4 linked regions of the Homo sapiens genome follow. The protein of the gene in region 1 purifies or fractionates together with the protein of each later gene. This does not show direct contact. Each region holds a gene or a part of one and is shown in the gene's direction. Other genes may lie near its edges.

Evidence for each region.
Region 2: the proteins of KLHL10 (region 1) and MVK purify together in Homo sapiens (co-immunoprecipitation; 3 studies listed by BioGRID and IntAct, with this or other methods). This does not show direct contact.
Region 3: the proteins of KLHL10 (region 1) and KIRREL1 purify together in Homo sapiens (affinity purification with mass spectrometry; 2 studies listed by BioGRID and IntAct, with this or other methods). This does not show direct contact.
Region 4: the proteins of KLHL10 (region 1) and PRMT3 purify together in Homo sapiens (affinity purification with mass spectrometry; 2 studies listed by BioGRID and IntAct, with this or other methods). This does not show direct contact.

What each region holds. Positions count from the first base shown.
Region 1 is NC_000017.11:41,840,822-41,847,847, forward strand, and holds part of KLHL10 (kelch-like protein 10), read left to right. Parts: intron 1-1,001; coding exon 1,002-1,491; intron 1,492-4,304; coding exon 4,305-4,922; intron 4,923-6,439; coding exon 6,440-6,589; intron 6,590-7,026. UniProt on the Homo sapiens protein: May be a substrate-specific adapter of a CUL3-based E3 ubiquitin-protein ligase complex which mediates the ubiquitination and subsequent proteasomal degradation of target proteins during spermatogenesis.
Region 2 is NC_000012.12:109,576,779-109,583,804, forward strand, and holds part of MVK (mevalonate kinase), read left to right. Parts: intron 1-2,386; exon of another isoform or gene 2,387-2,504; intron 2,505-3,023; coding exon 3,024-3,168; intron 3,169-4,616; coding exon 4,617-4,772; intron 4,773-7,026. UniProt on the Homo sapiens protein: Catalyzes the phosphorylation of mevalonate to mevalonate 5-phosphate, a key step in isoprenoid and cholesterol biosynthesis.
Region 3 is NC_000001.11:157,996,628-158,003,653, forward strand, and holds part of KIRREL1 (kin of IRRE-like protein 1 isoform 1 precursor), read left to right. Parts: intron 1-7,026. UniProt on the Homo sapiens protein: Required for proper function of the glomerular filtration barrier. It is involved in the maintenance of a stable podocyte architecture with interdigitating foot processes connected by specialized cell-cell junctions, known as the slit diaphragm.
Region 4 is NC_000011.10:20,460,690-20,467,715, forward strand, and holds part of PRMT3 (protein arginine N-methyltransferase 3), read left to right. Parts: intron 1-1,290; coding exon 1,291-1,478; intron 1,479-3,770; coding exon 3,771-3,857; intron 3,858-7,026. UniProt on the Homo sapiens protein: Protein-arginine N-methyltransferase that catalyzes both the monomethylation and asymmetric dimethylation of the guanidino nitrogens of arginine residues in target proteins, and therefore falls into the group of type I methyltransferases.

The sequences.
Region 1 (7,026 bases):
AAAGGAAGCAAAAGCCGGGCATGGTGGCTCACCCGTGTAATCCCAGCACTTTGGGAGGCCGAGGCAGGCAGATCACCTGAGGTCAGGAGTGCGAGACAAGCCTGACCAATATGATGAAACCAGCCTGGCCAACATGGTGAAATCGCATCTCTACTAAAAAATACAAAAATCAGTTGAGCGTGGTGGCACACACCTATAATCCCAGCTACTCAAGAGGCTGAGGCAGGAAAATTGCTTGCACTCTGGAGTTGGAGGTTGCAGTGAGCCAAGATCATGCCATTGCACTCTACCCTGGGTGACAGAGCAAGACCCTGTTTCCAAAAAAAAAAAGAAAAAAAGAAAAGAAAACAATTAATAAAAAGAGAAGCATTCCTGTTCTCATGAAGTTTACCCCCTGGATGGGGAAACAGGCATTAAATGAGTAAAATGCATATCAAATCATCATAAATGCCTGGGAAAATAAGAAAAGGAAGATAAAAAGCAGTGAGTGGCCATTTTATTTTTATTTTTTCAGACAGAGTCTCGCTGTGTCCCCCAGGCTGGAGTGTAGTGTCATGATCTTGGCTCACTGCAACCTCCGCCTCCCAGGTTTAAGCGATTCTCCTGCCTCAGCCTCCCAAGTAGCTGGGACTACAGGCATGTGCCACCATGCCCAGCTAATTTTTGTATTTTTAGTAGAGACGGGGTTTCACCACGTTGGCCAGGCTGGTCTTGAACTCCTGACCTCATGATCCACCCGCTTCGGCCTCCCAAAGTGCTGAGATTATAGGCGTGAGCCACCACGCCTGGCCCAAGAGACCTGGGTCTTACTCTCAGTTCTAGATCTTAATTTCTCCATCCACAAGGTAAGAGTGACCAAAGTCAGAGTTCTTGGAAAGGTGTTCTTCTTGTCCACTGTATATAGCACATGCCTGCACCCCACTTTCTCAGACCATTTCCAATGTACTCACCTAACAGGAGAGAAATGTTTCCGTGGCTGCTAGTTTCTTTCTTTTTTCCAGAGCTTTGTTTACAAGTGGCTGGAACAACACTGAAAAGAAGGTATACAACATCCCTGGCATTTCTCCCGACATGATGAAGCTAATCATTGAGTATGCATACACCCGGACCGTGCCTATCACACCGGACAATGTGGAGAAACTGCTTGCTGCTGCAGACCAGTTTAACATCATGGGTATCGTCAGGGGTTGCTGCGAGTTCCTCAAGTCAGAGCTGTGCTTGGATAATTGTATCGGCATCTGTAAGTTCACGGACTACTACTACTGTCCTGAGCTGAGGCAGAAGGCCTACATGTTCATACTGCACAACTTTGAGGAGATGGTGAAAGTCTCGGCAGAATTTTTAGAGCTCTCGGTCACTGAACTTAAGGATATCATTGAGAAAGATGAGCTCAATGTCAAACAGGAAGATGCTGTATTTGAGGCCATTTTAAAGTGGATTTCTCATGACCCCCAAAATAGAAAGCAGCACATTTCAATTTTGCTTCCTAAGGTCAGTGTTCACTCTTGATTCATTTATCACAGAGAGATTGTCCTAAAAGCAAAATTCAGACATATGACAGATCCCAAGGCTGTATTTACATGTCCTTAGATAGAAGGCATCTACTATTCTCTGGAATTTTGCAACTGTCTTTTCCCTTGGCATTACTAGTTCTTTTTACCTAAGTTATATTCTTTGACCAAAATCCTTCCTGGTGGTGGGGGAAGAAGAGAGCCTTCAAAATAATTCTAGGTGGGGTGTGGTGGCTCACTTTGGGAGGCCGAGGTGGAGAATCACTTGAGCCCAGAGTTTGCCAGCCTGGGCAACATAGGTTATAAAATTTAAAAAGTATAAAATTTGGCCAGGTGCAGTGGCTCAAGCCTGTAATCCCAGCACTTTGGCCAAGATGGGCGGATTACCTGAGGTCAGGAGTTCGAGACCAGCCTGGCCAACATGGTGAAACCCCATCTCTGCTAAAATACAAAAATTAGCTGGGCATGGTGGTGGGTGCCTGTAATCCAAGCTACTCAAGAGGCTGAGGCAGGAGAATCGCTTGAACCTAGGAGGCGGAGGTTGCAGTGAGCTGAGATCATGCCACTGCACTCAAGCCTGGGTGACAGAACAAGACTCCATCTCAAAAAAAAAAAGAAAAAAAAATTATAAAATTTAAAAATTAACCAGGCTTGGTGGTGCATGCCTGCAGTTCCAGCTACTGGGTGGAAGGCTGAAATGGGAGGACTGCTTGAGCCTGGGAGGTCAAGGCTGCAGTGTGCTGTGATCACCTCACTGCAGTCCAGCCTGGGCAATACAGCGAGACCCTGTCTCAAAAAAAAAAAAAAAATTCTAAAGGGCTGAAATTCCTTTCAGCTTTTTTCCTTTCTATGAATTTCTCCATACCCAAGGTAGAAGTTGAATTAGAAATCATGGCTGGCACAGTGGCTCATGTCTTTAATCCTAGCACTTTGGGAGGCGGAGGCAGGTGGATCACCTGAGGTCAGGAGTTCGAGACCAGCCTGGCCAACATAGCAGAACACTCTCTACCGAAAATACAAAAATTAGCTAGGTATGGTGGTGCATGCCTGTAATCCCAGCTACTCGGGAATCTGAGGCAGGAGAATAACTTGAACTCAGGAGGCGGAGGCTGCAGTGAGCCCAGATCGCACCATTGCACTCCAGCTGGGCGACAGAGAGAGACTTGGTCTCAAATTAACAAAAAAAAAAAAAAAAATCTTAAGTATTGCACACAATTGTTGTCAGTTGGTGCTAATAAGCGTTATTTTACATATTAAGACATACTCAATTACTGAACAATTACCATGGTTTTTCTTGGTCTAATAGTACTGACCACTAACCAAGGAATGGGATTGCTCTCTGGCCACTTGAGGTGCCTTCTATCTAGCTCATTCTCAGCTTCCAAATGTATATATCACCTCCCCATAAATAAATAGTAAATAAATATTTATTATTTATTTATTTATTTTGAGAAGGAGTCTCACTGTTGCCCAGGCTGGAGTGCAGTGATGCGATCGCGGCTCACTGCAACCTCTGCCTCCCAGGTTCACGCCATTCTCCTGCCTCAGGCTCCCCAGTAGCTGGGACTACAGGCACCCGCCACCACGCCCAGCTAACTTTTTGTATTTTTAGTAGAGACGGGGTTTCACCGTGTTAGCCAGGATGGTCTTGATCTCCTGACCTCGTGATCCGCCTGCCTCGGCCTCCCAAAGTGCTGGGATTACAGGTGTGAGCTAGCGCCCGGCTGACAACTATTTATTTATTTTGAGACAAGTCTCACTCTGTCACCCAGGCTGGAGTGCTGTGGTGTGATCACAGCTCACTGCAACCTCCACCTCCTGGGTTCAAGCAATTCTCACACCTTAGCCTCCAGAGTAGCTGGGACTACAGGCACGCGGCACCATGCCTGGCTAATTTTTTTTTTTTCTTTTTTTTTGAGTTGGAGTCTAGCTCTGTTGCCCAGGCTGGAGTGTGGTAGCACGATCTCGGCTCACTGCAACCTCCACCTCCCCAGTTCAAGCGAGTCTCCTGCCTCAGCCTCCTGAGTAGCTGGGATTATAGGCACCTGCCACCACGCCCAGCTAATTTTTGTATTTTTAGTAGAGATGGGGGTTTCACCACGTTGACCAGGCTGGTGTCAAATGCCTGACCTCAAGTGATCTGCCCACCTCGGCCTCCCAAAATGTTGGGATTGCAGGCGTGAGCCACTGCACTCAGCCTGGTTTTTGTATTTTTTTTTTTTTTTTTTTTTTTTGAGACGGAGTCTTGCTCTGTGGCCCAGGCTGGAGTGCAGTAGGGTGATCTCGGCTCACTGCAACCTCTGCCTCCCTGGCTCAAGCGATTCTCTTGCCTCAGCTTCCTGAGTAGTTGGGATTACAGGTGCGTGCCACCACACTCAGCTAATTTTTGTATTTTTAGTAGAGATGGAGTTTTGCCATGTCGGTTAGCCTGGTCTAGAACTCCTGACCTCCGGTGATCCGCCCATCTCGGCCTCCCAAAGTGCTGGGATTACGGCCGTGAGCCACCTCGCCTGGCCCCAATTTTTGTATTTTTAGTAGAGACAGGGTCTTGCTATGTTGCCAGGCTGGTCTCAAACTCCTGGCCTCAAGTGATCCACCTGCTTTGGCCTCCCAAAGTGCTGGGATTATGGTGTGAGCCTCAAAATCGACTATTTAAACTGTGACTTATACATTTCAAAAACAAACCAAAATATTTCCAGCAATTCAAAGGCAGATCGAAAAATGGGAGTTAAGGATGTGGGATTTCCTGGCACTCTCACGTCACCTGAATGACTTTCTGCGTTTGCTTCTTAGGTTCGCCTGGCCCTAATGCATGCTGAGTACTTCATGAACAATGTTAAGATGAATGACTATGTCAAAGACAGTGAGGAATGCAAACCAGTCATCATTAATGCCCTAAAGGCCATGTATGACCTCAACATGAATGGACCCTCTAATTCTGATTTCACCAACCCACTCACCAGACCACGCTTGCCCTATGCCATCCTCTTTGCAATTGGTGGCTGGAGTGGTGGGAGCCCCACCAATGCCATTGAGGCATATGACGCTCGGGCAGACAGATGGGTGAATGTTACTTGTGAGGAAGAGAGTCCCCGTGCCTACCATGGGGCAGCCTATTTGAAAGGCTATGTGTATATCATTGGGGGGTTTGATAGTGTAGACTATTTCAATAGTGTTAAGCGTTTTGACCCAGTCAAGAAAACTTGGCATCAGGTGGCCCCGATGCACTCCAGACGTTGCTATGTCAGTGTGACAGTCCTCGGCAATTTTATTTATGCCATGGGAGGATTTGATGGCTACGTGCGTCTAAACACTGCTGAACGTTATGAGCCAGAGACCAATCAATGGACACTCATCGCCCCCATGCACGAACAGAGGAGTGATGCAAGCGCCACAACACTTTATGGGAAGGTAAAGGACCAGGGTGGGAGGGGAAGATGTGGATGCAAAGTACAAGACCAGAAATGATACTGCTCTTTTTTGGGGTGGATGGAAGACGCAGTGGCAGTATTCACTTTGGAGTACTCATTCTTTCTTCAATTGACAAGGTGACTAGTTGCAACTGTCTTTTATGTTGTTTATTGAAAAGTAATGCAAAGCCGGGCACGGTGGCTCAAGCCCGTAATCCCAGCACTTTGGGAGGCCGAGGCAAGCAGATCACTAGGTCAGGAGTTCAAGACCAGCCTGGCCAACATAGTGAAACCCTGTCTCTACTAAAAATACAAAAAATTAGCCAGGCCTGGTGGCGGGCGCCTGTAATCCCACCTACTCGGGAGGCTGAGGCAGGAGAATCGCTTGAACCCCGGAGGCAGAGGATTTCAGTGAGCCAAGATGGCGCCATTTCACTCCAGCCCGGGCGACAGTGCAAGACTCCATCTCAAAAGAAAAAAGAAAAAAAAAGTAATGCAGGCTGGGCTCGGTGACTCACGCCTGTAATCCCAGCACTTTGGCAAGCCGAGGCGGGAGGATCACAAGGTCAGGAGATTGAGACCATCCTGGCTAACATGGTGAAACCCTGTCTCTACTAAAAATACAAAAAATTAGCCGGGTGTGGTGGCAGGCGCCTGTAGTCCCAGCTACTCAGGAGGCTGAGGCGGAGAATCACTTGAACCTAGGAGGCGGAGGCTGCAGTGGGCAGAGGTTGCAGTGCTCCAAGATTGCGCCACTGCACTCCAGCCTGATGACAGAGCAAGACTCCGTCTCCAAAAAAAAAAAAAAGTAATGTGTAATGTGGCAGAGCCCAGTGTCTTGTGTTTGTAATCTCAGCACTTTGGGAGGCCAAGGTGGGCGGATCACTTGAGGTCAGGAGTTTGAGACCAACCTGGCCAACATGGTGAAACCCGGTCTCTACTAAAAATACAAAAATTAGCCAGGCACAGTGGCACACACCTGTAATTTCAGCTACTCAGGAGGTGGAGGTTGTAGTGAGCCGGGATAGCTCCACTGCACTCCAGCCCAGGCAACAGAGTGAGACTCCATCTCAAAAAATAAAAATAAATAGGCTGGGCACAGTGTATCATGCCTGTAATCCTAGCACTTTGGGAGGCTGAGAGGGGCGGATTGCCTTAACTCAGGAGTTCGAGACCAGCCTGGACAACACGGTGAAACCTCGTCTCTACTAAAATACAAAAAATTAGCGGAGCGTGGCAGTGTGCGCCTGTAGTCCCAGCTACTCCAGATGCTGAGGCAGGAGAATTGTTAGAACCCAGGAGGCGGAGTGAGCAGAGATGGTGCAAATGGACTCCAGCCTGGGTGACAGAGCGAGACTCTGTCTCTAAAAAATAAATAAAAAGCAATGCATGCACATACAAAAAAAAGAAATTCAGACTGTACAGACTGGAATTAAGTGCCCACTACCACCACACACATATCCTTTCTTTCTACTCCCTAGAGTGGGAATTTTAATAATCTTGGAACTCTTCACACAGGTCTACATATGTGGTGGGTTTAATGGAAACGAGTGCCTGTTCACAGCAGAAGTGTATAACACTGAAAGTAATCAGTGGACAGTCATAGCACCCATGAGAAGCAGGAGGAGTGGAATAGGCGTGATTGCTTATGGAGAACATGTATATGCGGTAAGTTTATCTAGTACCACACACACACAAAAAACACATTACCCCTAGATTTTGTATTAGTAAATGGGTTTATGCTACTATTGGTAAGTATTTGAAAAGCTTTTTTTTTTTTTGAGATGGAGTCTCGCTCTGTTGCCCAGGCTGTACTGCAGTGGCAGGATCTCGGCTCACTGCAAGCTCTGCCTCCCGGGTTCATGCCATTCTCCTGCCTCAGCCTCCCGAGCAGCTGGGACTACCGGCACCCGCCACCATGCCCAGCTAATTTTTTGTATTTTTAGTAGAGACAGGGTTTCACTGTGTTAGCCCAGATGGTCTCGATCTCCTGACTTTGTGATCCACCCGCCTCGGCCTCCCAGAGTGCTGGGATTACAGGCGTGAGCCACTGCACCCGGCTGAAAAGCTTTTTTTCATGGAAGATAATGGAAGAGGGAGTTATG
Region 2 (7,026 bases), on another chromosome or scaffold:
GAGAATCGCTTGAACCTGGGAGGCAGAGGTTGCAGTGAGCCAAGATTGCGCCATTGCACTCCAGCCTGGGGGACAGGGCAAGACTCCATCTCAAAAAAAAAAAAAAAAATTTAATAAAAGTACAAGTTACCTATGCTTATTATTGGAAAATATAGTCAATACTGGGACATTGTAATTTTAAAAATCACCTATTATTTCCCTTCTCCTTTCCCTGACCCCAGTAATGACTCTAAGCATTTAGGCATTAATCCTTCTGGGTGATTTTCTGTAGATTGATAGAAAGATTGATAGAGACAGGGAGATATCTTGGTTTTTTAACCAAAATTGGGTCAGGCCATATAAACCATTCAGAAGTACTGATTTTTTCTTTGTGTGTCACGTGTGTGTGCTGATTTTTGACAGCACTGTGAAGATTTCATCCACTCATAAGCAGGCCAGCTTTTTCCATCAGTGGAGTCCCCTGTACCTGCCCCAGAGCTGACGTGTGTTTTCTCTGTTGTCAGTTTACTGTCTGCTCCCTGGGCTGAATGAAGCCTTGCTCTTTGGAACAGTGTTTCTCAGCCAGGATGGGGTAAATGAGAATCTTTTTGGGTTTTTTCCTTACACTGCACCTGAACCCTTGACACCTGCTTCCCATTCCCCATGAGAAACCACAGTCACTCCCATATGCCGTATGGGGATGGAGGAAGAGTTGAAAATTCTCATTTCACTTGTTGAGATGGGGTCTCACTGTGTTGCCCAGGCTGGTCTGGAACTCCTGGGCTCAAGCAGTTTTCCACTTTCCCACCTTGGGCTCCCAAAGTGCTGGGGTTACAGGTGAGAGCCACTGTGCCCAGCCAAAATCCTCATTTTAGAGCAGCCCTTTTTAACTTCATCATATCTTGGAATCACCCAGGAGTTTTTTGTGATGGTGGTGGTGGTTTTTTTTAACCAATACAGATGGATGGGCTCCTGGCTCCGCCCCTCTCTTATTGGGAGTTGGTAGTGGTGGTAGGAGTTTTTGAAAGGGGTTCCTTGGGTGATTCTGGGGACACCTCAGTTAAAAGCCACTCCTTTGGAGCGTGCATCTGAAAACAACCAGCCAGAGCACATGGAACTTGCTTTCCAAGGTGCACAGGGCCACCCAGCCAGACCAGAAATGTCTCCTGAGAACCAGCTGCAACTTGTGTATGTCAGTAGCTTGGGGTGGAAGCAGCCAGGTATGGGGGAACATGTCTCAGACCACTCCAACTCCCTCAGTGAACCTGGGGCAGGTCACTTCATCCTCTGGGCCTCGGAGCAGAGACATGTTTCCTGACTGAGGGCTGCCATGAGGATCCGACGACACTGGAGGCAGGCATTAGGGGTGCGACACAGAGTGCATTATGTAGGGAAGGGCTTGTTAGTTTTGGAGCTCTGGGAGACATACTATCTTCTAGGTTGCAAAGATCTACCATCTTTCTTTCAGTGTCCTTTTGCTCCCTCCTGATAGTAATAAACATTGAACTTTTTTTTTTTTTTTAAGAGGCAGGGTCTTACTATGTTGCCCAGGCTGGTCCCAAATTCCTGGGCTCAAGTGTTCTTCTGCCTTAGCCTCCCGAGTAGCTGGGAATATAAGCACATACCACTGCACCGTGCTACTACAGTGAACACTTATTGGGCACTTACGTGTGCCAGGCACTAAGTGTGTTCACATATGTTAGCACTCTTAGAATTCGCCAGCATTCCCTGGAAGTAGGTGGTGGTATTCATCCCCATTGTACAGATCTGAAAATTAAAGTTCAGAGGTCAAGTGGCTCAGGTTACACTTGTTGGTGACACTGAAAGGATTCAGACCCAGGTTTCTCCTAGCCCCAAAGTCCAGGCTCTTAACAGCTGTTCCATCTCGATTACAAAGCTCTGAAATACCTGGGTTCTCAATGATGCCATGACTTGGCCATTTGAGTATATCATTAATCCATTCAACACACATTTACCCAGTACTTAACCAGTGCCCGAAGTTTCCTAACACACGCATGCCCAATTCCATTTCCCAGTCCCTTGAGAATGTGACCTGAGGCTCAGCGAGTGATTTGTAAAGGTGAGCTGGCCAGAAAGGCTCTGCCTTCTCAGTGTCTCAGAGGAAAGTGGCCCAGGTTCCTGTACATCCCTGGGAACAACCTGCCTCACCTTCCCCTTCTGCCCAGGCACCGCCTCGCATTTACACTGTCCTATTCCTGATGATTATCTTTTGGAGGAGGGAAATATTTTGGGGGTTAACTTAACACTCTTTTGATTTTGGTTTTATACAATGGAAGGTGAAACCTAGGCCCTTGTGCGATTGAGCCAGCATTCTCTGTGTGTGTCTGTGTGTCTGTGTGTGTTTGTTTTAAGACTACAATTTTTTTTTTTTTTTTTTTTGAGACAGGGTCTCACTCTGTTATGCAGCCTGGAGTACAGTGGTGCGACCACAGCTCACTGTTTCTTCAACCTCCTGGGCTCAAGCGATCCTCCTGCCTCAGCCTTCTGAGTAGCTGGGACCACAGGTGTGCGCCACCATGCCTGGCTAGTTTTTGTACTTTCTGTAGAGTTGGGGTTTCGCCATGTTACCTAGGCTGGTCTCAAACTCCTAGGCACAAGTGATCTGCCCACCTTGGCCTCCCAAAGTACTGGGGTTACAGGCATAAGCGCCTGCACCCAACCTTAAAACTACTGTTAATTAGCACTTACTACATGCCAGGTGCTGTGCTAAAAAGTTTACACCCCTTATTTAACTTTACGTTCCTGACAACCGTAAGAAGAGGCACTGTTGTTATCCCTGTTTTACCAAGGTGGGAAACAGGTTCAGGGAGGTTAAGTCACACGGCCAGTAAATGGCACAGTTGGGACTCAAACCCAAGTCTGCCTAAAGCCAATGAACAGACTTGGGTGTGGGGTTCAGACCATAAATTCGTGTCCATCCATGTTCCAATTCCAGTGACTAGTCGATTTTCTGTGTTCTGTTGTTTATAAAGCACCAAAGTCCCTCTCACCCACTTGTGTTTGCTTGTTTGCCTGTGGAACAGAGCAAGGTGATGTCACAACACCCACCTCAGAGCAAGTGGAGAAGCTAAAGGAGGTTGCAGGCTTGCCTGACGACTGTGCTGTCACCGAGCGCCTGGCTGTGCTGGCCTTTCTTTACTTATACCTGTCCATCTGCCGGAAGCAGAGGTGTGTGCGTGGTCTGGGGAAGGAGTCCAGATTCAGCCTCCCATGGAGAAAAAGGAAGAGTTTCTGTCATTGCTGCTGGAGAATGCACATGCTCTCTTCTAGAGCAGCAGCCATTGGCTGTCCTCATCATGTGCCAGGCACCCTGCCAGGCACGGTATATATGGCGTGCCTTTTTTTTGAGACAGGGTCTCTGTTGCTCAGGCTGGAACGCAGTGGTATGATCTCAGCTGACTCCAGCCTCGACCTCCCAGGCTCAAGTGATCCTTCCACCTCAGCCTTCCAAGTAGCTGGGACTACAGGTGCGCACCACCATGCCTGGCTAAATTTTTAAATTTTTGTAGAGATGGAGTCTCACTGTGTTGCCCAGGCTGGTCTCAAACTCCTGGGCTCATGTGATCCAACTGCCTTGGCCTCTGAAAGTGCTGGGATTAGAGGCATGAGCGACTGCACCCGGCCCCAGCCTCTCTGTTGTTGTTTTTGTTGTTTTTGTTTTTGTCCAGAACCCAAAGGGAAAAAAACCTCAAGGGGGCAGCCCTTCCCTTGAGCAGCAGATGCTGGCTCAGTGGCCAGGCTCTATGCTGAGGACACATTCGGAAACGGCCTGATACTTGCCGTCCGAAGCAGAATTTCAACTTGAGAGAGGCATGTCCCCTTAAGTGGGTGAGGGGCATTCCAGAATCTTCCAGGCTGGGTGGGGTGGGTACGTGGAATTTGAAGACGCACATTATTACAATTTTTCTATTTGGGAAATGGGAAAAGCACTTCGTGGAAATTACCAAACATGAAGTTTGACAGTTCTTGCTTGGGGGAAATACATGTAAGATGTAGCGATTCGGACCTTTCTGGTGATCAAAAGCAGACCCGTGTTACACATGGTTGGGGAGCACCGTCTGGCGGGAGAGGCCCCGGTGAACACACAATCCTAGTGTGCGGTGGTGAGGCAGCGGTGGAGGGAGGGAGGGCAGGCGGGGGTCCTAGAAGGGGAGCCAGGAGGGTCTTTGTGGGCAGCTACGGAAAGTGTCACAGTGGAAGCGACATTTGATAAGGCCTTGAGAGATGGGTAGGGATTTCTCTGTGGGATAAGGAGGTGCACGGCTATTGCAGGCAGAGGGGCCAGCCTGTGCTCAGAGCAGGCCCACAGAAAAGCCTAGCATGTGGGCACAGGAAGGAGGTGGGAGAAAGGGGTTGACAGCTTGCCAGGTGCTTCTGGGAAGGGCTCTGGTTGAATGACCCAGGGATTTAAATGAACTTGATACCTGTTTTCTAGTTGTCTGATTCAGCATGAGTTCCTGATGTTCAATAGGGATACATTTGGGGTCAGGAATTCTCCCCCAGTTGAGAAAACTGGACCAGATGCTTGGAGTCAGGCCTGGGCCTGGCCCCTGGTTCAGTGCTGGCACCCCACTGCCCTGCGGGAGAGTCACGTTTCACACCCTGGTGTGTTTCAGGGCCCTGCCGAGCCTGGATATCGTAGTGTGGTCGGAGCTGCCCCCCGGGGCGGGCTTGGGCTCCAGCGCCGCCTACTCGGTGTGTCTGGCAGCAGCCCTCCTGACTGTGTGCGAGGAGATCCCAAACCCGCTGAAGGACGGGGATTGCGTCAACAGGTAACCATGGTCCTTACCTGGCCAGTGTCCCTCCCGCACGGCAGGACAGGGACGTGGCTTCTCTCACTGAGACCTCACCACCTCCCTGTGAGGTGAGAGGTGTCATAGTGGCCATTTTAACATGAGGAAGCTGAGCCCCGAGAGGTCAAATGGCTGGCCCAGGGCCACACAGCTAGTGCTGGCAGAGTGGGATTTGAACTCAGAGTCTGAGCTTTTCTCTCCTGCTCTCCACCACCTCTGCTCACCCCCATCTTGGCTCTGTTGGTTTCAAGCGCCCATGGTATGGTAGAAAGAGCTGGAGTCCAGATCTAGAGGGCAGCAGGTTAGATGAACCCTCCCACCTCTGCATTGACTCAGGCTAGGACAGTGTTCTCCTCTGTATGGTAATGACAGTGCCCTAGGGGTGATTGTCCAGTTTTACCACATGGTTATGAAAGAAACTAAGAGTTTGCTGAGAAATCCACATTAGGGGGTGTGCCCATTAGACTAGGGCATCTCTCCTCCTACGGGGCCGTCTCCACGGAGGGCGTGTCACCTCTCTGCGTTCCTATTGACCACGTGAGTCAGTGAGGCCTGTCCAGACAGGCTTGACCACAGACCATTTCTATCATTAGGAGAATGTTCCTTGAGAAACCACCCAGTGCGCAGAGGTTACGCAGTTTGTCCCAGGACCAGGAGTTGTGGATGAGGCCCCCAAATGCAGAGCTCTGTCCTCTTCCTGGGCTTGTTTTTGTTTTGTTTTGTTTTGTTTTCTGAGCTTGGTTTTTTTGTTTGTTTGTTTGTTTGTTTGTTTGTTTGTTTTTTGAGATGGAGTCTCGCTCTGTCACCCAGGCTGGAGTGCAGTGGTGTGATCTTGGCTCACTGCAACCTCTGCCTCCAGGTTCAAGTGATTTTCCACGGGCCAAAGGACTGGCCCTGTCTTTCAAAAGGTGGAGGGTGACTGTGTGTGTGCACTTGCATGTGTGTGTGTTCTTATGCTGCTTCTAACCATTTCTCCCACCTTCCCCTGAAGGCCAGTCATTCCTTCTCAGAACCCTTAGGGAGAGTAGACCTCCCACCCCACCCCACCCCACCACACCCCACCCATCATGTGTTTCTGAGTCGGAAAGGACTGGAGCCCAGTCTCCTTTGAAGACTCAAATCTGAGCCCCCTAAAAAACAAACTGTGTAGAGCAGGAGGAAGACTCACATTTGTTGAGAGGGCCAGGCCCTGGGCTAGGTCAGCTGCCTGAGTTACCTTCCCCCGCCTCCATCACTCACTTCATCCCAGGCACGCTGCCACCTGTTGGTCCCTGGGAAGGGCCAGCCAGCTCTGGTGTGGTTCCAGTGCTGCACAAGTGGTGTGTCTGGAATGCACCCCACACACACACCTTGCCCAGCTGGCTCCCCTTGTCCTTCAGGCACCACCACCCCGCCCCAGCCCCCAGCAATTCAGCCCATCGTACTCTTACAGAAACACCTGGTTTGTTTTTGTTTTTGTTTTTTTAACTATATTATCATTTATTAAATGTAATTAGGTAGCTCTGGATCCTTGGTCTGTTTTTTTTTTCTTTTATTATTATTATACTTTAAGTTTTAGGGTACATGTGCACAATGTGCAGGTTAGTTACATATGTATACATGTGCCATGCTGGTGTGCTGCACCCATTAGCTCATCATTTAGCATTAGGTATATCTCCTAATGCTATCCCTCCCCTCTCCCCCCATCCCACCACAGTCCCCAGAGTGTGATGTTCCCCTTCCTGTGTCCATGTGTTCTCATTGTTCAATTCCCACCTATGAGTGAGAATATGCGGTGTTTGGTTTTTTGTTCTTGCGATAGTTTACTGAGAATGATGATTTCCAATTTCATCCATGTCCCTACAAAGGACATGAACTCATCATTTTTTATGGCTGCATAGTGTTCCATGGTGTATATGTGCCACATTTTCTTAATCCAGTCTATCATTGTTGGACATTTGGGTGGGTTCCAAGTCTTTGCTATTGTGAATAGTGCTGCAATAAACACACGTGTGCATGTGTCTTTATAGCAGCATGATTTATAGTCCTTTGGGTATATACCCAGTAATGGGATGGCTGGGTCAAATGGTATTTCTAGTTCTACATCCCTGAGGAATCGCCACACTGACTTCCACAATGGTTGAACTAGTTTACAGTCCCACCAACAGTGTAAAAGTGTTCCTATTTCTCCACATCCTCTCCAGCACCTGTTGAGAAACACCTGCTTTGAAGTCACATATTGCAGTGTCATGGA
Region 3 (7,026 bases), on another chromosome or scaffold:
ACAGCAGGTCTGGAGAGTAACTGGACTCTCCCCTTTCGGTGCTACACATAGACACATATACACACTTTAGATGTCCCACTTCTGCCCAGAGCAGGGCGCTGAGGTTGGGGAAGAGTCAGGGGAGACATGGCAGAAACCAGGACACTGGGTTCCTCTCTTTGACCTTGACTGAACTCCACTTTCTGCCTTCTACTCACTTAGACCCAAAGGGAGGGTGTGAACCAAGTACTCAGTGCCTCAGCCCTGGGCCCCAGAGCACCTGGTCAGGAGGAGGAGGAGGAGGCATCCAGGCCTTCTCGCCTCTGCTCCTTCCCACAGCTGAGTGGTTGGTTGTTCTGGCTCTGCCTTTGGCGCTCCAGTGAGATGGGAGGAGGAAGCCCCACCTCTGCCCCCCTAGGACCTCTTTACACCCTTACAAGGACTAAGTCTTAATTTCTTTTATCCTATAGTTTCTGGTGGTAAGTGCCCCTTAAATATCTGATCAATTGATTGATTTGATGAGCGCGCTGCAGTGCTGGAAAGAGGCAGCATTCGATGGCGATTAAATCACAGACTCGCATCCAGCTCCCACCTCCACCATTTGGTAGTCGTAAGCTTGAACAAGTCATGTACATTCCCTGTGCCTCAGCATGCTCTTCCAGAAGTGAGGATGGAAGTAATACCTCATAGGGTTGTGGTGGCACTTGAATATGTTAATCCATGTAACGTACATGGAACAGTGTCTGGCACAGCGAGAAGTGCTCAGTAAATGCTTGCTATCTTGGCTTTGAGGTGAGACATAGATAGACAGGCAGTCAAGTTGTCTGCGCTTCCTTTTCTTCTCCCTATGATTCTTTGTGGGGTGTGTGTGTGTGTGTGTGTGTTTTCTAGCTCCAGCTCCCCAGATTCTTGGTCCTGGGCTTCAGTAAGTGCCTTCTTTGTATCTCTCATGGAAAGAACTATGTTGTGGCAGACCCAGAAGGGGAAACTGACCCCCTCCTTGGAGACCTCAGAAAAGATCTGGGGAAGGGATTTGAGGAGAGAGAGCAAAAGTGGAAGAGGTTGGCACTTGAGTGAGAAGGAACCAGAGCTCTTGTGTGAAATGAGGAGGGACACTAGCCCCGAGGTGGCAGCATTTCAGAGTCTGGAAATAATATGGATCATTTATTGAGCCCTGTGTAACTACTTCATATGCATTATCTAATTTAATCTATGCTACAGCCCCCTGAGATTGGCTGTGTAAATTATCCCCATTTCATGGATGAGAAACTGAGATTTATTTATTTATTTTTTTAGATAGGGTCTTGCTCTGCTGCCCAGGCTAGGGTGCAGTGGTGTGATTATGGCTCACTGCAACCTCCTCCTAGGCTCAAGCCATTCTCCTACCTCAGCCTCCTAAGTAGCTAGGACCACACACACCTGGCTAATTTTCTTTTTTTTCTTTTGGAGAGATGGGTCTTGCTAGGTTGCACAAGCTAGTCTCAAACTCCAAGGCTCAACCGCTTCTTACATCTCGGCTTCCCAAAGTGCCGGGATTATAGGTGTGAGCCACTGTACCTGGCCAAGAAACTGAGGTTTAGATACATTAAGTATCTTATTGGTAGTTGTAGGAACCAGTGGATCCCACAGCCTGCACCCTTCTCCTTTGCCAGATCCTACATGCCAGCAGAGACTGATGCTGGACTGGGACAGGGATTTTCCTGGTCCATAGCAGAATGAGAACTAGGAAGAAAAGGGAGTGAGTATTTCATAAAGGTAAACTCATTCAAATTTAAAAAACAATCCTTTATTCTGAGATTCTGTCCTACATTTTTTGGTGTTAAATTGTTTTTCTTTGATGATATGATAAATCTAGTAAATGACTTTTTTCAAGGACTTGGCAAATAAAAAGGTTTGTTTCTAATATTAAACACAGCCTTGTTACAGGTCCATGAACTACAAATTTGGGAATTATTCTTGTTCCATGCAAGGCTGACTCCTGGAGAGGCCCAGAGCCATACAGAGGCAAAAGAAGCACTGAGAAGGGGTCTAGGGGATAATCCTGAGACCAGGATCTCCCCAAGTGTCAGCTTCCAAATTTGTCTGGTCCCTGGTAGTCTGGTAGGATTGGAGGCTAGGGTCTTAGATGGCTTGTTCTAACCCGCCTGGGGAGGCTTTCAACCCTCCTTCTTAGCCTGTGCCCTGGGGAACTGCCTGGCCTTGGGTGGTGAAAAGTGATTGTAGGAGGTGAACTCCATACCAAAGCATCAAAATTACCTTTTATTGAATTCCTACAGTGTGCTTTTCAGGTTAATGTTACTCCCATTTTATAGATGAAGAAACCACAGTTGAGAGTTTAAGTAACTTGCTGAAGGGCATACCTGAGGTGTTAGACCCCAGATTCAACCCCTCTTTTGTCTCCCTCCTAAGCGCCATGAGTGCCCTTCAGCCTGCCTAGAAGAGCCACACCCTGCCTTTCTTAGAGTTAAGGCAGCTGTGGAAGGACAGGAGGGAAGCCTAGGCCTTTTTTCCTCTCCTGGTGCCTCACTCAGCTCAGCCCCCTTCCCTAGTTCTCAGCCCAGAAATTCCAAGGACACATCTATCTCCCTGCCTTGCTTTGATGATCATTTGTGAAGCAAAACTTAGATGTCAGGATACATGTTTTAATCAGTGGGGCTGGGACCAGTAAATAATGCCCCTTGTCAGAAGGAGGTTTGGAAAGCCTCAATCCTTTTCCTCCCACGTTTAGAGTCTTTTATCTTTGTACCTGTATGGTGCTTGGCAATTTTAGCAACTTTTCACATGTACCATTTGATAGAGAGATACACTCATCCTATGGTGTAGGCAGGAGAGTTGTTTCTCCATTTAATAGATGAGAAAACAGAGACCTAGAGAAGTTAAATAAATTGCAAAGGGGTGGCAGTTGGTATGGAGGGAAGGGATGGGGACAAATTCCTTAATCTCCCCAATTTCTGGGAGATGTTTCCATCTGAGGCTAGAGACATTTCTCTTCATATGTCCAGAGATGAGAAAGTTATGCCCCTTCCCGACCTACCAGTTCCTGTCTGGTTTCTTCCCAGGGCCTCTGGACCAGTTTACTTGGCAATCTCCTGGAGGGTTCTTTGACCTGGAAAAGGATGGGGGTGTGGGGGTGGGTTGTCAGCAGTAGAGGAGAAAGAGGCTGTCATGTCCTTGATCCTCAAATGTGAAACCAGGGAGGAGGAAGAGGCAATTTCAGAAATCAGGAAAAATAATGGGCTCTCTCAGAGTGGGGGAGAAATCCGTTCACTTTTGTGAAGGGCAATTTTGTATTTTACATGCATTAGTAACTAATTCAATACTGACATAATTGTTGAAGTTAGGTGTTATCCCCATTTTACAGATGGACAAACAGGGATCCAAAGAAGTTAAGCAGATTGTCCAAGATGATCCAGCTAGTAAGTGACAGAGCCAGAACTAGAACCCAAGCAGGAAAGATGGGGTGGGGGCTGAGGATAATTCCTAGAAGGAAGACTGCACACCTACCTGTTCTGCATTACTGCTGCATGCAAGCGTGTGGATGCAATCTCACTGCATGCATATGCATATGCATATGTATTCACACATGCCTTCATAGTGCAGCTATACATGCACCCACTTCTTATCCCCATCCCCATACACATCTGGACAGATATCTCTCATCTTTACCCAAGCCTTTTCAGTCACCAGAGCACTAGTGTGCAACAGTAGTACATTTTTGTGAGTCATTTTTCTTCCAGCCATAGCAGCCCTCCTGTGTCTTTAAAGGCACTACTTTTTGCCTTGCCTTGCATGCCCTGCATCCTCTCTGATAGATGCACAAACTGTGAAGTTATGAAAGTTGAGAAAGAAGCTTGGGGTTCCTCATTCTGTAACACTGGTCCCTCTCCATTCTGTAGCTCCAGCTCTTATACCTTCCTACGTCTGATTGTCAGACAATGCGAACCTAATTAAGTTCTTGGAGCATCCAGGATAAAAGCTGCTGTAGCTCGCAGACATCACTGAAGTATGACACTTTTGTTTTTTCTTTCTATCCCACTTACTCTCCCTCTATCAGCTGACTCCAAGCTCCCAGCTTGTCCTTCCCTCCATATTTAATTTATTCAGCCACTTTTATTAACCTCTGTTGTCTCCAGGGGCTGCAGTCCTCATCCCTCTCTGCCCTCCTTGAGCCCATTTAACAAAATAGGCATCGTATTGAAATAAATGAGCCTTGCAGCCAGTCAACCTCCTCAGGATTAAGGGTCTTAAATCCAGGGGTAGAAATCTCCAGAACTCTCTAGCAAATTCCATTAGTTTCCCAGGAGAGAATGCTGCCGCTTCATTCCTTTTGCAATCTGGCTCTGGAAGGTGATGGGAGACTCACCCAGAATGCTGTGGGTCTTGGGTTTTGAGGCAGGGAAGGGATAACAGGAACCCGAGTGTCTGGAGGTGTACTCTGTGCCCAGCAGGTTTATCCCAGGAAGCTGTCCCATCCTAGGTCCGCTTCAGAATCGACTAGGCCATTGGATGCCTTTTCTTTTTGCCCCTTCTTTCCTTCTGAGGCAGTCTGAGGAATATATCTTCACTGAAAGATGTGTGGAAAGAGGAAGGACTTTTGTTCCTTCATTCAGCGGAAGAGAATTGTGTGCTTACTGTGTGCTGGGCTCCAGTGTTGCAAAGTGAATAATGTACTAGATCTCTGCCCTTGAAGGTCTCACTTTGTGATTTCAGTGCAAATTACTTAATCTCAGTAGGCCTCAGTTCTCTCTTTCACCAAATCAGGAGAATTATTTTTTTAATCATCAACTGTACATTATTATATGCAAAACATACTGGTAGGCATTATGTGGACCAAAAAATATGACAGCAGGTGGTCCTTCCCTTTTAAGAAACTAAGATATACACACATGAAGACTGCTGGTGGTGCAAGGTGTGGAGTCATTGGTGCCGTGATAGCAGTGTGCAGGTCAGAGCTAGAGAGTCCAGAGAAGGGACTTTGCTGTGGGCTGAAGTGACCAGGAAGGGCTCCGTGGAGGAAGTGGGGCCCAAGGATGGACAGGACATGGATGTGGCAGGAAGAGGGAGAGCCTTACCAGATGGGCCAGACTTCCGGAACCAAGATGTTGCTGGTGGGATGTGTGGCGGACACTGAGGCCAGTTGGACTGAGGATTTGGGTTGGTTTGGGAGAAACAGATGAGATGATCCAGAACGGCAGAATGGGGACAGACCAGAGGAGGCCTGGAAAAGCCAGGCCAAAGACTTCTTGCAAAGACTCCCCTGTAAGAACTGGGGAGCAATGGATTTCTGTTTTTTAAGCAGACAAAGGGTGTGTTAAAAACAGGTATAATCCCCATCTCACTTCTCACCAAAGCCTCCCCTCCTCTTAAACACCTCTTCTACTGGAGACACTATGGAAATTTATAACCCCTCCAATTAAAAACATGAAAAAAACAGATAACCAAGGTTTGGCCAGGCAGAAGTGAGCAGAAAACCTTAGAGAAATACCAGCTCTGCCTTGGGAAGTCTCAGATCTGTGACTTGAGCCAGAGAGACTTCGGAAGGATGAGGAAATCTTTTCCTCTGAGAATACTTCAGTATAAGATAAAGATGCCTGGAGGCAGAGTTCAACGGCAGTAACTGCGAGGAGAGCTCTGCAGCCTGACTCTGAGGCCAGGCTCTTTGTTACCTGTCCCCCCCAAGCTTGGGCCATGTCTACACTGCCCAGAGTCAAGGGGAGCCATCTGGTTCCATCAGAGGGCCCATCCGGGTTTAGTCCCTTCAGGGTCAATTCTGGGCCATTTCCACTGGTCTGTGGCCTTAGATACATGTGCATTTAGGAGCTGAGCCTAAAGATTCTTAAAACCTCTGCTAGGAAGTGAGCTCTGGTTTTTCAAATGGAGTCCTTTGAAGAGGGTCCCACCAGGGGGGGTGAGAGCATGTGTTCAACTTATGAGCATTGTTTTTTTAAATGGCTGTGCTGGGCCTAGGCCTGGGAATGAAAAGGTAGGTAAGATTTAGTCCCTGTTCTTGAGGCACTCTCAGTATGGTGTGGGAGATGGATGTATAAACACATATTGACAATTTTATAAGATAAAGGTTGTGAGAGAGGTATGTGAAAAATGCTGAAGCCTAACCGTCCAGTGAGGGGGAGTGGAGCAGGGAGCAGGGGCAGGGAGGGGGCCACAGATGTGAGGCTCAGGGGCTGCGGGGCCTCTGGAATGTGGTGCCACGAGATATCCAAGCTCTGGACAATCCCCGATTGTACCCCCTGCTCCGGATGGAAGGAGCCGAGGAATCCGAAGGAGTGAACCCTGGTCCCTCCCAAGGATTATGATTTCCAGGAACAAAGGCAGTTTATATAAAGCACACTTCCCCCAAATCGAATCTCCCAACCTCTTGTGTCCAGTTCCGTACTCTCCACCCCCCACTCCCACCCAACAGAGCTGATTTCTAAATTAACTTTGTCCTTGTAATCAGCTTAGCTGAGTTTTTTTTATTATTATTATTTTTCCTCCTCCTTCCTGAATTCTCCCAGGAACAGCCCGGGGCCTTGCTCGCTCCATTACCCAGCATTGTCAAGCCATGAGTTGCTTTTAACTGCTTCTTCCCATTCGATTCGCTTAACTGGGAGGTTATTAAAAGGAAAGGAGCAGAGATGGGCAGGCAGGGCAGAGGAGGAGAGAACATAGTAGAGAGAGAAGGCATTTCAAAGGAGCAGAAACCCAAGGCTAGGCAGGCTGGCAGAATGAAGCCTCTGAGAGAAGTTGAAGTTTTCATCTCTACTCCTGAGTCATCCAGAAGGACATTTCATCGAGACAGTGGGACTCCTGGGTTTTAATCCAAAACCTTGAGGAATTGACTTGCTCCTCTTTGTCTCAGTCCTCCCCACCACTCCCCACTCTCCCTGGAAATCTACCAGCTTGACACTGTGGGATGGGATGGGGGACTCCCAGAGGTCCCACACTCCCCTTGATGCCTGACCCTCCCACACACACACACTCGTGGCTGGCTGTGCTGCCAGCGCCAGAACCCTCCAGCATTCACCCCCGGGGCAGCTACATTGTGGT
Region 4 (7,026 bases), on another chromosome or scaffold:
AGCACTAAATGCTCCTGTTCCTTTTGAATCTGCCCATATTTATGTCCTATTATAATGGTTAGTACCACAATCTGTGCTGTTACTAAAGCTAAATACTGTCATCCTTGACCTTTTGCCCCACAGCCACTCAGCCTCAAAGTCCTCTGAGTTCTACTTCATAAATATCCCTTGAATACATCTCATCCTTTCCATTCCCACAGCAATATCCTAGTTCAGATCACCTGGTTTATTTTAACTATCTCTTAATTTGTCTCTGTTTTCATCTTAGACCCTCCCATTATTCTCCACATTGCATTCCAGGTGGTTTGTCTAAAATCAAAATCTAGTCATGTTGCTACCCTATGTAAAATTTTTTACTGGATTATCATTATTCTTAGAATTAAGTCCAGTTTACTAATTTGGTTTACTCAGCATGTAGTCTTTGGTCTCTACTTACCTTTCTAGCCTTGTGTCTTATTTCTCTCTCAATTAGATTGTATATGGGCCATCCCATCTATTGTGACCCTTTATGCACACTGCTGCTCACTTTGCCTAGAATACACTTTCCCTCCCCACTCCCAACTTACTGGGCTTCAGTTCTTATCTTATATATTATCCCTTCTCCCCTGCTCCAGCCAAGTCTGAATTAGCTGGTTTTGCCATGAGCTCCCTTAGTACCTTGGATGCTCCTGTTCTTAGTATTTATTACCTCACAAATAACTATGCATTTCTTTTTCAAAATAGTCTAAATATAAGTTTATTGAGGATAGTGATATGTGTCCATAGTCTGTAAATTAGACTGGCACATGTGTCTGGCACATACTTTATGCTTATAAATATTTTTCTATTAAATGAGAGTAATATGAAGTGGTCTTCTGTATAACTATAAAACCCTATTACATGATTTTCTTACATGCTACATATCTTTTTAAATGATTTGTCCTTTTCTGCATGTTTTTAGAGGAATATAGGAATAAGTAAAGATCTAGTACCTTTTAAGTTAGCATACTTTAAGTTTTAATATCAATAAATATGTTTATTTCAGAATTGTTTAATTATATAACCCTATTTTAATTCAAACCCTATCATTGGAATCCCTGTTTTAATTTTATCATCATGATAATGCGTATCTGTTTTTAAAAGAGGCTACAAGATGAAGCATGGTTGTTTTTCCTGATCTATACCTTCATTAATCTCCCATTGCTAGTAATCCTTACTGATGGATTTGATATTTATATTTAGGCTTTAAAAAATTATATTCCATAAGAAAGGGAGATAATGCTTAATTGTTGGGCATTTTGTTTGTTACAGTCTACCCTGACATTTGCACTATCAGCCTTGTAGCAGTGAGTGATGTGAATAAACATGCTGATAGAATTGCTTTTTGGGATGATGTCTATGGCTTCAAGATGTCCTGCATGAAGAAAGCAGTTATTCCAGAAGCTGTTGTGGAAGTTTTAGATCCGAAGACTCTTATTTCAGAACCTTGTGGTATTAAGGTAGGTGTTTTACCAACTTTATTTTTTATAATGGTATTGCTATTTTTCTTAGTTCAGCATTTGAAAATAATATATTGATTTTATATATGGGCTTTCAAAACAGTACTTTTCCCATTGTAATCAGTCTAAAACAAATTGAGGTCATAATATTTACCAGTTGACTATATCATCTCTTTAGAATCACTTCTCTGTATATTAAAACTCCTTACACTCAGTTTTACAGTCCTTCAAATCTAACTCTGAACCGGTTGAATAATTTATATTTACTTTGGCTTAATAAGGTAAAAAGTCCTGCTGTATTATCAGTTCTGCTTCATCATCCTCCCCAGCCTTATTTTAGCTTCTCATTTACAGCCAGATTATTCATTCGTGTCATATATTCCACACAGTTTAACTTCTCTCATTCAGATTTCTTCCAGCGTTTTCAGATTAAGTAATTACATATAGTAAATTTGCCCATGAAACGAAAGCCCTACTATGTTCAGATTTCTCAGTTAATTCCTTTTGTGTTTTGTCATCTTATTTTTTGCCATGTTAATCTCTGGGTTTATTATGAATTTTTCTATGTTGAATTTACATGGGTTCACTAATAACTTTGCAGCAAAAAACAATACTGCTTTTCTTAACTCTTGGTCTGTTTCAACTAGATAATCAAATCTAGAGCAGTATGTTCAGTGTTAGGTTCAGGATATTGTCTTTGTCTCAAGAGAAAAAAAAAAAAAGAGTCTCACTCTGTCGCCCAGGCTGGAGTGCAGTGGCGCAATCTCGGCTCACTGCAATCTCCGCCTCCCGTGTTCAAGCGATTCCCCTGCCTCAGCCTCCCAAGTAGCTGGGACTACAGGCATGCACCACCATGCCTGGCTAAATTTTTGTATTTTAGTAGAGATGGGGTTTCACCGTGTTGACCAGGATGGTCTTGATCTCCTGACCTCATGATCCGCCTGCCTCGGCCTCCCGAAGTGCTGTCTTCTCGTTTTAATCACGCTGTTACTTTCATATAGCATCAATATTTCTTCTCTGTACAAAGCAGATATTTAGTACATATTTAATTTTCTTAAATGGATAAAGCATTAATAGTATAGAGTAATAAATGTGAAGTTTCTTAACAAGAGCAGGCTGATTAAAAGTGCGTTCAGCTTTTAAGAAAAACAGTCTGCTTGATGGTTATACGACTTCAGTGCTCTGGTACAGTGAGAATAAAGAGTTTATTTGGGCTCTTTGGCTCAGGATAGGAGTGTACAGTTATAACCAACTAAGCCTTAAAGTTGAGCAGAAAGAGGAGAGTTGGTGGAGGTTGCTGATTTCTCTCTCTAGTGATCTCTGCTTAATGCAAAAACTGCCATGAATAAATAGTTGAGACAGAAAAATTTAGACCTGAAAATAAGGTGTTAAAAAGTGTATGTACTCTTTTTTTTTTTTTAACATTTATTTAAGTAAATAGTTTGTTCTGTATTTTCCAGTCCTCCCACAAACACATTGTACTGTTAAAATGTTTTCTCAAATTGTTTTCAATAGTGTCTCAGATGTGTGGTTACATTAATTGCATTCACTGGGTTATGATCTACTCCTGGCTGGATCTACTCAGCTGATGACGGTCTTTACAGCACACTTCTGGTTAGACTGCTGTAGTTGAAAGGTGATTCCATCCCTTCTCCAAAGTATAATGGAGAAGGATTTGAAAAAGGGCAGAATGGGAAAATAAAGATATTTCGCTATTTTTTCTCTGGATCGAAATCTCCATAGTTTTGCTGTTTTGTTTGAATTGTGTGGTTTCTCCTCATATCTAACAAAACTTATCTTCAATTATAGACATGAATTTTAAAACAACTTTCTTTTCATTAGCATGTGTTTTCAAGTTGGCAGTTCCTATAAATGTATTGACTGTTATCACACATATTTTATAGCAGTTGTGGTGGGTGTACCATACACAGTAGGCAAAATGATGTTAGGTGAAACACAGGAAAACATTTTTTATTTGAAAGTATTTATTTTAGTGTGTCAGGAAAACTTTAGCACATTAGCACTATGATTTGATAAATACTATTGTTTACAAGGAGCCTAAGTTAAATGAATTTAAGAAAAAATTAACAAGATGATAGTACTAGTACTCCTTAAACTTATAAATAATTCCAAAAATTAGCATGTGAGTAAAGTTTGCAAAACTTTGGTTTCCAATAATCATTTGTGCATAAAAGAAGTAATGTTTGTCTGGGTTGTTTTTGTTTTATTTTTTGTTTTTTTTTTTTGGACTATTTTTACTAAGCTCTTTCTTCACTTCTTTTTAATGGGTAGCATATAGATTGCCATACGACGTCTATCTCAGATTTGGAATTTTCATCAGATTTTACCCTGAAAATCACAAGGACATCCATGTGCACGGTAAGCTATTTCATTCTGCTTTTACAAATTTCACTAGCAGTGCAGTTGATTGGCAGGCTAATGAGTTTAATTACCAGGCTTGTGACAAATGAAAATGACTATTGCCTCTGACAGTCTACCATTGCCTTTGCTAGGCCATTGAACAGATCTGGTTAATAGGTCAGTAAACTTCAAAAAAGTTTAATTCAGTAGAAAAAGTATTAGGAAACCCTGTTTACATAATGATTTTTCTTTATAGAGTCTTCATTATTTCCTATCACGTGGTTAGTCAAGAGCACTCAACTTTATCTTCAAAGACCAAAGTTCATACCCTATTCCTCCCTTTAACTCTTTACATTTAATTTAGATGGAAGATATGTTTATTTGGTAGAATATTTTATGTTTTATATTTATGTATGAAAAAATTACTGAACTGCTATTGAGTTACCTTTCAAAAATCTAATAATAATTTAATAGTCTAATAGAAAAAATCCTTTGGAAAAGTTAGGCAGATCTGGGTTCCTATGTGGTTCTACCACTTATTTCGTTGTTAAGTTACCTAAGTAATCTGTACTTCAGACTATTCAGTTGCTTTAAGAAAAATGGGGATAATTCTGTTTCGATGACTCATTACATGGATTCATGAGATATATGTGAAAATACCTGCAATGTAGCCAGAAACGTTAGATTATTAAAATATAAAAAATTTTTCATCTCAAATAATTTATAAATGTTTATTTTTTTAAGATAACATTTACTGCTGTCAGGAGACTCAAATTGTTCATAAAATCTGCTCCTTATAGTATGAGTTTATATAGGTGGTATTAACATATTTATATTATTTTAAAAATATATGGTTTTTAAAACTATGTCCTCAGAAGTTTACATTTTTATGGAAAATTGTATTGTCAGAATCTGTAAAATAGATTATAAGTCATGTTAACATTGAGTCTTCTGCCTGATTCTTTTAAATATTTGGTTCAGATCGATATATTATACACAAGACTTCATGTCTTTACAGTTGTTTCAGTTCATTTTGATTCAGTGATTATTTTATATCCAAATAAGTTTAACAATGTACTTTGATGTTTTGAGGGAATCTTCTTTTAGTTGAAGTTGGTTTTATAATTTTTTAAAGTTTAAATATCCAGATTTAAGTTTAATTTAAATATCCAGATTAAAGTTTAAATATCACAAATAAAGATTTGTGACTTTGGAGCACTCATTATTTATTTAATTAACAAAAAGCAAAATTTGATTCATTTCCCATGTATTTTCTAATTCTGCTTTTTAGTAATTGAAATTATTTTTGTCAATTGAAATTAGGCTAAAGGCTAACTCCTAGACTTTCCTTTTTGTTTTGATATTATTAATACATGAGGGTTGAAAAAAGACCATCTTGATTAATGAAAATTGATCAATCATCTATAAAGGAATTCCTAGAATAAATTGTCATGTCACCAGTATTAAATATATATTTCACATATATTTTCAGTGCCTATCACATGAATCAAAATAGAGCAGATGTAAAACTCTACTGAAGATGTCAAAAGCTTGTGCATATTTGTGAACTCTAGAAAAGTTTATTGACTTTCATTGAAATGTTCTTTTTTTCTAGTTTATTGGTCAGGGTTCTTAGTTTTCGACAACAGAATTTAAATCGGTTGGTTTAAACTGAGAGATTTGTTAGAGGGAATACAATAGTTTCCAGACACATTGGGAGACCTAAAGGAACAGACAGTATTTTCAACTTCTAGAAACTTCTAGAACCACACCTTTGAACTGGCCTGCTACAGAGCTGCCTGTTTTAAATAGCCTAGCACTGTAGGTTCTATTTACCTTAATTCCCCTAGCCCACTCCGTGTTAGCCACCACTGACAACCCCAGATGAACAAAACCCTTTACTACCATCCTGGTTCCTGGTCCTCTGTCCTCCCAACCCAGGTAGGCCATGTTCTCCTTCCAAATCTTCATTCAGCATATCTGCTTGGTGAATCTAGGTCATGTGGGGCCCTAGCTGTCAGTAAGTTTTGGAAAGCAGTTTTAGCTACAGTTTTATACTACAGATCTGGAGTTTCATAACACATATATGGAATTGTTTTCTATTTCCTAGTATTTAGGATAGAGTACAAGAAGGTTTGTATTAAATGAAACTGTATCCTTCAGTCATCTTAGTTTTATTCTGTATACTTAAAAGAGTAAAAAGAAACATCTTAGTTTTATTCTGTATACTTAAAAGAGTAAAACAAAACAAGAAAAAAATTGGTAAAGTCTATTTAATTCAAAGATTGTAATTGAACTTTTAATATTGAAGAATCTAAGTATCAAATAGTTACTTGCTGCATTTGTCCCTGTACAAAGTTCCATAAGAAAAATGAATTATAAGTAAACTGTTACATTATATCTATAAAGTACCTTTTATTTAGATTTGCATTTTTAGTCGCAACTTGCCTGAATGGTGTTTATGAAAAAGTTTGTTTGGAAATTAGGTGAGCCTAAGGTTTGCGAAGAAGGTGGCAGGAGGTTGGAGTGGAGTTACAGGTGTCTAGTTACTGCTGAATAACCTAGTTCCATAACTCACCTCAGGAAGAATGTATTGTTACAAACCATTTATTGGATGCATGCCAGGTACTGAAGATAAAATATTTTAGTAGTTAGCATTGAATGTTAACTCTTCTGACATTATCCTTTAAAATTTAGTTAATATTATCAGAGGAAGGTAACGTACATCAACAGTCGTTGAACACTTGAATGTCAGACAATGTGCTAATCACTTTAAAAGCATTATTTAGTTCTCATAATAACCATTTGAGATGAGTACTCATATTATTCCCATCTTACTGGTGAAGGAAAAAAATTACTGTTTTACTTGTGAAATAAAATCTCCTTACTCTTTCCTGACCCAAAAAACCTTCTTTGTGGGATTGTAGAAACTATTAAAAGAACTTAGAGAAACCTATGAATAAGATCTTACAGGGGTAGAAGAAAGCAGGCTTCGTGTTGCATTTGAAACAGATTTAACAATGTTTATTTTTGGCAAATAGTCCAGCAGTTGGAATGAAGAGGGAAAGAGAATATGTATAATCAGAATTCACTCTTCTTAAGAGACAGGCCTCACAGATTCATGTGATGAAATCAGTACCAGAGTTCATCCTCTTTGCAGCAGATAGGAAGTAGATCTTTGAAGTTT